Regions from separate parts of the Homo sapiens genome. Here regions 1 and 3 are each linked to region 2. The links come from fine-mapping of genetic effects on gene expression. A gene starts in region 2. Each other region holds a variant in brackets. All regions are shown on one strand. Distances are from middle to middle.

Region 1 (2,762 bases), 90 kb after region 2:
ACCAAGCAGATAACATCATCTCTCACCTGAGACTGGAGAAGTTAAGGACCTTCTCCAGGGACCTTAGCAGGGACCTCTGCTAGCAGGTTAGTCTGGAACTGGAACTCTGTGCAGCAGGTACCCCAGGATAAGGTATCATCCATCTGGACCGTCTCAGAAGTGAGTGTACCCCCTTGTCCCAAGTTTCCTGTCCTCTACATATGCTCTAAAGGCCCTGGGGTATGGGGAGGAATGTGACTCAAAGTCTTGCCCTCACATCCAGTGCTGAGCAGCAGCAGGTACAGTGCCTGCTGGGCCTCCCATCTGCTTAATTTCCCCTTCCATGAAGCCTTCCATCATCTGTTAGACCAATCTTGTCTTTCTTTTATTTGTATTTATTTATTTAGAGATGGAGTCTCACTCTATCACCCAGGCTGGAGGGCAGTGGTCCAATCTCAGCTCACTGCAACCTCCACCTCCCGGGTTCAAGCGATTCTTTTGCCTCAGCCTCCAGAGTAGCTGGGATTACAGGTGTGCACCACCACTCCCTGCTAATTTTTGTATTTTTAGTAGGGACAAGGTTTCACCATGTTGGCCAAGCTGGTCTCAAACCCCTGTCCTCAAGTGATCCGTGGCCTCCCAAAGATTCCAGGCATGAGCCACCGTGCCCGGCCCAATCTCGTTTCTCTTTTCCATGTGCTTGCGCAGTGCTTCAGGGCTGCCTCAGTCTAGCACAGAAAATACTCTACTGCCTCCCCACTAGTCACAGCCTTGACGGTCTCAATCAGAATTATCTGGCAAAGTGGAGAAAGTGCAGACCTACTGAATCAGATTCTCGGGTTCAGATTTTCTTGTAGCACACTCACGTGGGAGAGAAACTTCGCTGGCACACGTCTCCTCAGAGCAGGGACCTGGTCTCATTGCTCTTCATGTTTCCCACAGCTCTTAGCACCGTGACAACCAGCAGCCAGTGTCTGGTGAGTGTACAGAGGTATTTCCTAGGAAGAAAATGAGAGTAAGGAGAGTGTAAAGGTGGGGTTAAGAGTGTGGAACAACTGAAGAGGATATAATTTGAGAGAAGAGCGGTGAGATGGGAAACCTCAGGGTTGATCCACAGTGCCCACCCTTGGGGTTCCTTTGAGTGCTAGAATAGATATTCAGTCAATATCTCTTCCCCTCCTTTTCTCCGTAGACACATACTTTAGTCCCAGAATTTTTTTTTTTTGAAATCTAAACTTTCAATGACGAAATGAGTAATTGTGCATAAAGTGGGTCACAAGGAAGTGATAACGAATGCACAGACTATTTTAACTGCTGAATCAGAAATCGCTCTGCTACGTTATGAAATATGCAGGAAGGAAAATAAGCAGATGACAGAAGTGGAAGGAATCCTAAAATAATATTTTCACAAACAAATTCTGACCCAACATAGGCTTGGGGGGCAGTGGGGGGAAGCTTCCATGCTACACATTCCTGAGAGTTGAAGAATTGGAACAAAATTGCCAAAGTAGAAATCTTTCTAAATGACGTAGGATCTCCTGAGGCACAAAGCCACCCAAACCCGCAGCCCGAAAGCCTTCTGTAATTTCATGGGGGGGTCTTAGTCACCCCGCTACACGGCATGGGCAGGTTGGGATTAAAGAAAGCAAAGACAAAACAAAACCCACAAACAAAATTTA[C/A]AAACTGTTCTATTTTTTCTTCCTAACACAAACAAACAAAACCCACTTTTTTGGTTTCATTTGTTTCATAGATTTTTAAAAATTGTTGTAAAACATATGTAATATAAGTTACCATTTTAGCTTTTTTTTTTTTTTTTTTTTTTTTTTGAGACAGAGTCTTACTCTGTTGCCCAGGCTGGAGTGCAGTGGCATGATCTCGGCTCACTGCAACCTCTGTCTCCCGGGGTTCAAGAGATTCTCGTGCCTCAGGCTTCCAAGTAGCTGGGATTATAGGCATGGCCACCACGCCCAGCTAATTTTTGTATTTTTAGTAGAGATGGGGTTTCGCCATGTTGGCCAGGCTGGTCTTGAACTCCCAACCTCAGGTGATCTGCCCGCCTCAGCCTCCCAAAGTGCTGGGTTTATAGGTGTGGCCACTGCCACTGCATCCGGCCCATTTTAACTTTTTTTTTTTTTTTTTTTTGGAGACGAAGTCTTGCTCTGTTGCCCAGGCTGGAGTGCAGTGGCACGACCTTGGCTCACTGCAACCCCTGCTTCCTGGGTTCAAGATATTCTACTGCCTCAGCCTCCTGAGCAGCTGGGACTACAGGCACCTGCCACCACATCCAGCTAATTTTTGTATTTTTAATAGAGACAGGGTTTCACCATATTGGCTAGGCTGGTCTCGAATTCCTGTCCCCGTGGTCTGCCCACCTCGGCCTCCCAAAGTGCTGGGATTACAGGCATGAGCCACCGTGCCTGACCAGCCATTTTTAAGTGTACAATTCAGTGGCCTTAAGTACATTCACAATTCACTTAATATTGCCCAACTGTCACCATTATCTATTTCCAGGATTTTTGCATCATCCCAAACAGAAACTCTGTACCCAATAAGCAATAATTCCCTATTCTCTCATGCCTTATCTCCTGGTAACCACCATTCTACTTTCTGCCTCTATGAATTTGCCTGCTCTAGATACCTCACATAAATTGAATCACACAATATTTGTCCTTTTGTACCTGGCTCGCTCCTTCCCTTCCTCCCTCCCTCCCTCCCTTCCTTCCTTCTTTCCTCTCTTTCTCTCTTTCTTTCCTTCTTTTGATGGAGTCTCACTCAGTCGCCCA
Region 2 (2,762 bases):
AGACTCCTAAGCTTTTCAGTTTTATGACAGTGCTTCATCTTAAGGTAAATGGAAAGTAAATGAAATAATTGTTAGAATATTAATGTTTAATAAGTTTATTTCCGACTGAAATGACGTTTATAAGGTTATCATATAACCTATCTACCATTATCTAATATTTTAAATTTGTTTAATAAAAACAGTATGTTACCATATGCTGTTTATAGCATCTTGCTTTTTAAACAAAGATACCCATTTCCTGTTTTTCTCCCCTTGATATTTGAAGGTTTCACGTTATTTTAAGTCTAATTTTATCATTAACCATTTGATACAAAAATGTGTCCTTGGCAGGGCGCAGTGGCTCACGCCTGTAATCCCAGCATTTTGGGGGGCCGAGGCGGGTGGATCACCTGAGGTCAGGACTTCGAGACCAGCCTGGCCAACATGGTGAAACCCCGTCTCTACTAAAAATACAAAAATTAGCCGGGCGTGGTGGTGGGCGACCTAATTCCAGCTGCTCCGGAGGCTAAGGCAGAACTGCTTGAACCCAGGATGAGGAGGCTGCAGTGAGCCGAGATTGTGCAACTGGACTCCAGCCTGGGCGACAGAGTGAGACCCCGTCTCAAGAAACAAACAAAAACCAAAAAACCAAAAATGTGCCCTGAAGTCTTCCACATTGTATTATTTAAGCCTCACGTGAGTTAGCAAGGTCAGTTTACACGAGATAAACTTAGTAAGGTTAAGTGCCCAGATCCAGGCCATACAAGCGGTCGTTCTATATTCTAAATTCTATGCTTCTTAAAGTTAAGAATGGGTAGTAGTTAAGAAGCTACTACTAACAGTATGAGATAAAATGATATTTTAAAGATGAACAGATGTCGCATTCTAAAAAGGTGAAAACGCGGCAAGGCACAGGAACTCTTCATAATACTGCAGTTTTTAAGAAACATGGGCTGGTCTTGACGAGACCTATAGGCAGACAGGGCTCAAACATTCAAAAGAGCTGCAGAGTAAACTCAACTCCGGGAAAGCGCTGCACTGACTGGCAGATTCCACACGAGACACTGGCCTCCCACGTGTCTTTCAGGAAACATACAAAATTCAAGGGATAAAGGAAGCCAAGAAGGGGTTGCGAAAAAGGGAAAAAAAAAAAAAACAAAAGCGAACAGAGCTTCCCTGGGACGTTCAGGGAGCGCGGAGGGTGCGGGAAGGCTGGGGCGGGCGGAGGGAATTCGCAGAGCATCTGGCGGGCACCGAGGTCTGGGAACAGGCCTGGAGGCAGCTCGGTTCGTGGAGAGAGCGGGCTGCCCGTGGGCCCCACCCTGTAGGGCCCCCCAGTAGATCTGCTCCCTTGGTTCGGGTGGGCAGGGGAGGGCAGAGCGCAAAAGAGAAAAGCAGGGAAGGAGACGCTAGAAGAGCCACGGGTAGGCGCGAGTCAGAGTCCGAGGTTCGAGGGCTCTGGGCCGGCCGCATCTGCGAGCCCTCCGAGGCGCCGTAGCCCCGCCCCTCCGGCGCGTGGCGCCCATGACGCTAGGCGCGCGGGCCGCTCTCCTTACAGAGGTCGCTCTTGTCCGAACGGTCGGCCTCTGCTGCGCCTGCGTGGTCGGGAGGGGAAGTGAGGCGGTTTCCTCGGCGCCTTTTCCGGCAGCGGCGGCGGCAGAACTGGGAGGAGGAGTTGGAGGCCGGAGGGAGCCCGCGCTCGGGGCGGCGGCTGGAGGTAACCCCTTGGGCCGAGCTGGAAAGGCGGGCCACCTCGGTCTTCGCTCCTTTGTGGAGCTCTGGCAGTAACTCCCCTCCCTCTCTGTTTCTCTGCAGGCAGCGCACCGAGTTCCCGCGAGGATCCATGACCTGACGGGGCCCCGGAGCCGCGCTGCCTCTCGGGTGTCCTGGGTCGGTGGGGAGCCCAGTGCTCGCAGGCCGGCGGGCGGGCCGGAGGGCTGCAGTCTCCCTCGCGGTGAGAGGAAGGCGGAGGAGCGGGAACCGCGGCGGCGCTCGCGCGGCGCCTGCGGGGGGAAGGGCAGTTCCGGGCCGGGCCGCGCCTCAGCAGGGCGGCGGCTCCCAGCGCAGTCTCAGGGCCCGGGTGGCGGCGGCGACTGGAGAAATCAAGTTGTGCGGTCGGTGATGCCCGAGTGAGCGGGGGGCCTGGGCCTCTGCCCTTAGGAGGCAACTCCCACGCAGGCCGCAAAGGCGCTCTCGCGGCCGAGAGGCTTCGTTTCGGTTTCGCGGCGGCGGCGGCGTTGTTGGCTGAGGGGACCCGGGACACCTGAATGCCCCCGGCCCCGGCTCCTCCGACGCGATGGGGAAGGTGCTATCCAAAATCTTCGGGAACAAGGAAATGCGGATCCTCATGTTGGGCCTGGACGCGGCCGGCAAGACAACAATCCTGTACAAGTTGAAGCTGGGCCAGTCGGTGACCACCATTCCCACTGTGGGTTTCAACGTGGAGACGGTGACTTACAAAAATGTCAAGTTCAACGTATGGGATGTGGGCGGCCAGGACAAGATCCGGCCGCTCTGGCGGCATTACTACACTGGGACCCAAGGTCTCATCTTCGTAGTGGACTGCGCCGACCGCGACCGCATCGATGAGGCTCGCCAGGAGCTGCACCGCATTATCAATGACCGGGAGATGAGGGACGCCATAATCCTCATCTTCGCCAACAAGCAGGACCTGCCCGATGCCATGAAACCCCACGAGATCCAGGAGAAACTGGGCCTGACCCGGATTCGGGACAGGAACTGGTATGTGCAGCCCTCCTGTGCCACCTCAGGGGACGGACTCT
Region 3 (2,762 bases), 74 kb after region 2:
GGGATGATGAAAAGTTACATACAGCATTGTAAATGTCCTTATTGCCACTGAATTGTACACTTAAAATGGTTAAAGTGGTAAATTTTATATTATGTATATTTCACCATAGTAAAAAAAAGTTTTAAATACACATTCCAGGGCCCCACCCTTAGAAAGCCTCAGAGGCGGCCGGGCGAGGTGGCTCACGCCTGTAATCCCGGCACTTTGGGAGGCCGAGGCAGGTGGATCACCTGAGGTCAGGAGTTCAAGACCAGCCTGGCCAACATGGTGAAACCCCTTCTCTACAGAGATACAAAAATTAGCCTGGCATGATGGTGGGTGCCTGTAATCCCAGCTACTCTGGAGGCTGAGGCAGAAGAATCACCTGAACCTGGGTGGCAGAGGTTGCAGTGAGCCGAGATAGTGCCATTGCGCTCCAGCCCGAGTGACAGAGCAAAACTCCGTCTCAAGAAATCCTCAGAAGGTGATACAGTAAATATGGATGGGGTGGGAATCTGGAATCTGTATTATTATTATTATTATTTTTAATGCCTTCCTATCTTTCTCAGGCATAGTCAGGTTTGGAAACTTATGATTTAGTCTCTGCCAGTTCTTTCCAAGGGGCTGGTGCGTCTGTAAGGAAGTGTTCACCAGTCTACGTGAAATACATGTGTATTTCTCATGCATCTGAGTGTATTAAATTTGAAGTCCTGTTTTAAAATCTGAGATTGTCATGATTACATTGTTTTGGGGTTAAAGTGTCCAATCATCTCCCACCATAAAATGATGGTGACAATAATTCAGGTTGTTTTTTAAGTGTCTGTGCTTGGCAAAATAGAAGTGAGCAGTCCTATGTTAGTCTCTCAAAAGGTTTTCAAAATTTTAATGGTTTGTTAAATTCCAAAGATTGGGAACCATTCCTCCAGACACCATCCCTTTGAAAATACTGAAATAGAAACTGCTTCTGCTGTTTATTTTATTTGTGCCAGAAAGAAAAAAAAAATGGAAAGGACCTATACATTTTTCTGTGGTTCATAGGACCTGGAGCAACAAAGGGCAGCATTGAAACTGACAGCATTGACATGTAATTTGTCCTGCTGCCTGTTGGAACGTTCTTTTTCAGATGCTGGAGGAGCATGACAGAGGAGAGGTGGAGGTAGGCGAGAGTAATATAATTTCTCCAGGAGAACATCTGAGAGGGGAAGTTGCTTTCCTGCCCTGGCCCTTTCACCCTCCTGAGTTTGGGGGCTGTGGTGGGGCAGGGATTGACCAACAGCCATTCCTAGGGGATGGATGCCTTTGCATTCCAGAGGGCAGCTGGCTGAAGGGAGTGCTGAGTCTGTGGGAGCCATAGCCCGCCCCACCCTTTAGGCAGATTAGTTAATTATTGAAAAGTGCCTCAGAAGCACAAAGGTCTGGAGAGACTCCATGAGCTATTGCTCAGGCCCGTGTGGGAGCTGGCATTTCTGAGGAGACACTGAGACTCTTCTAGGAGGCTGTGGAACAAGAAATAGTTCCTTCCCATTGTGGTGCAGTCCTTTCAGGTTTGGTGTAGAGAGACAGTTCCAGAGAATTCTTATACAGTGCATATAACTTCTCAAGAGAGAAGTTAAATTTATTTGTCTTAGGATTTGTGAAGTATTTAGATAAATGAAC[C/T]ACATCAGATATTTTCCGTTGTTTTAATTTTTTGTGTGTGTGGTTTTAATGTTTTAAGGACATTCAGGTCTTTTTTTTTTTTTTTTTTTAAACGGAGTCTTCCTCTGTCACCCAGGCTGGAGTGCAGTGGCACAATCTCAGCTCACTGCAACCTCTGCCTTCTGGATTCAAGCAATTCTCCTGCTTCAGCTTTCAGCTTCCCGAGTAGCTGGGACTACAGGTGCGCGCCACCACGCTGAGCTAATTTTTGTGTTTTTAGTAGAGACGCGGTTTCACCATGTTGGCCAGGATGGACTTGATCTCGTTATCTGCTCACCTCGGCCTCCCAAAGTGCTGGGATTACAGGTGTAAGCCACCACACCCGGCCCATTCAGGTCATTTATGCATAAACGATCACATGACATGTTCTGTTCTCTGACTTACTTTTTTCTTTTACTTAACAACATTCCCTGTAGCTCTTTCTGTGTTAGTGCATATAGGCATCCCCCATTTTAACTGTTGCATTCCTTCTAGATGTATCATAGTTTCTTTACCCACTATTTTAGCAAAGGATCACATAGGTGGTTTTCCATTTTTCACCATTACAAACAATGCTGCAACAAATGTTCTTATACACAAATGGGTGTGTGTATGTATGAGTGTTTCTGAAGGATATTATTTCTAGAAGTGGAATTTCTGGATCAAAGGGCATGCACATTTAAAATTTTTGTAAATAATATTGAGTTTCTCCCCCAAAATTCTGTTCTGATTTTTATAGCCACCATTATACTCATCAGCGTTGGACATAATCATTTTGTTAAAACTGCCAGCGTCATGTGCAGAAAAAACAGTGTCATTTTAAATTGCATTTCCTGGATTTACCAGTTAGATTGTTCATTTTATCATATGCCTATTGACCATTTCAATTTTTGGAACTTTTAGAAATAAAAATACAGAAAAGGTGTATAGGCTGGTTGCAGTGGCCTACTGACCATTTCAATTTTTGGAACTTTTAAAAATAAAAATAGAGAAAAGGTGTATAGGCTGGTTGCAGTGGCCTACTGACCATTTCAATTTTGGGAACTTTTAAAAATAAAAATACAGAAAAGGTGTATAGGCCGGGTGCAGTGGCTCACGCCTGTAGTCCC

Which allele goes with the higher level. Positions count from the first base shown, and alleles are read on the strand shown. Sizes are in standard deviations (SD) of each study's normalised expression. Not every link is listed here.
For the expression in fibroblasts of the gene that starts at base 1,621 in region 2, allele A in region 1 goes with a lower level than allele C (small effect, 0.15 SD a copy in GTEx).

The links. PIP is the estimated chance that this variant, and not a neighbour inherited with it, causes the effect.
Region 1: its variant is the best candidate, but not a certain one, in a credible set for the expression of ARF6 in fibroblasts (GTEx, PIP 0.90).
Region 3: its variant is the best candidate, but not a certain one, in a credible set for the expression of ARF6 in whole blood (INTERVAL, PIP 0.71).

The regions. Positions count from the first base shown.
Region 1 is chr14:49,981,328-49,984,089 of GRCh38, forward strand. It overlaps LINC01588 (long intergenic non-protein coding RNA 1588), which reads right to left. Exons shown (of 4, transcript NR_126498.1): 4 at 342-977. All of the region lies in intron 1 of LOC105370485 (a long non-coding RNA gene), which reads left to right. Among named protein-coding and RNA genes, the nearest start is that of MIR6076, 16 kb to the left of the region's middle. The variant C/A (reference allele first, on the strand shown) is at 1,659.
Region 2 is chr14:49,891,462-49,894,223 of GRCh38, forward strand. It overlaps ARF6 (ARF GTPase 6), which reads left to right and starts at 1,621. Exons shown (of 2, transcript NM_001663.4): 1 at 1,621-1,696; 2 at 1,795-2,762. The coding sequence starts at 2,276. RefSeq lists enhancers at 1,181-1,280, 2,151-2,470, 2,501-2,550 and silencers at 1,371-1,760, 1,801-1,990.
Region 3 is chr14:49,965,287-49,968,048 of GRCh38, forward strand. MIR6076 (microRNA 6076) reads left to right here and starts at 1,113; the gene lies at 1,113-1,225. The variant C/T (reference allele first, on the strand shown) is at 1,636.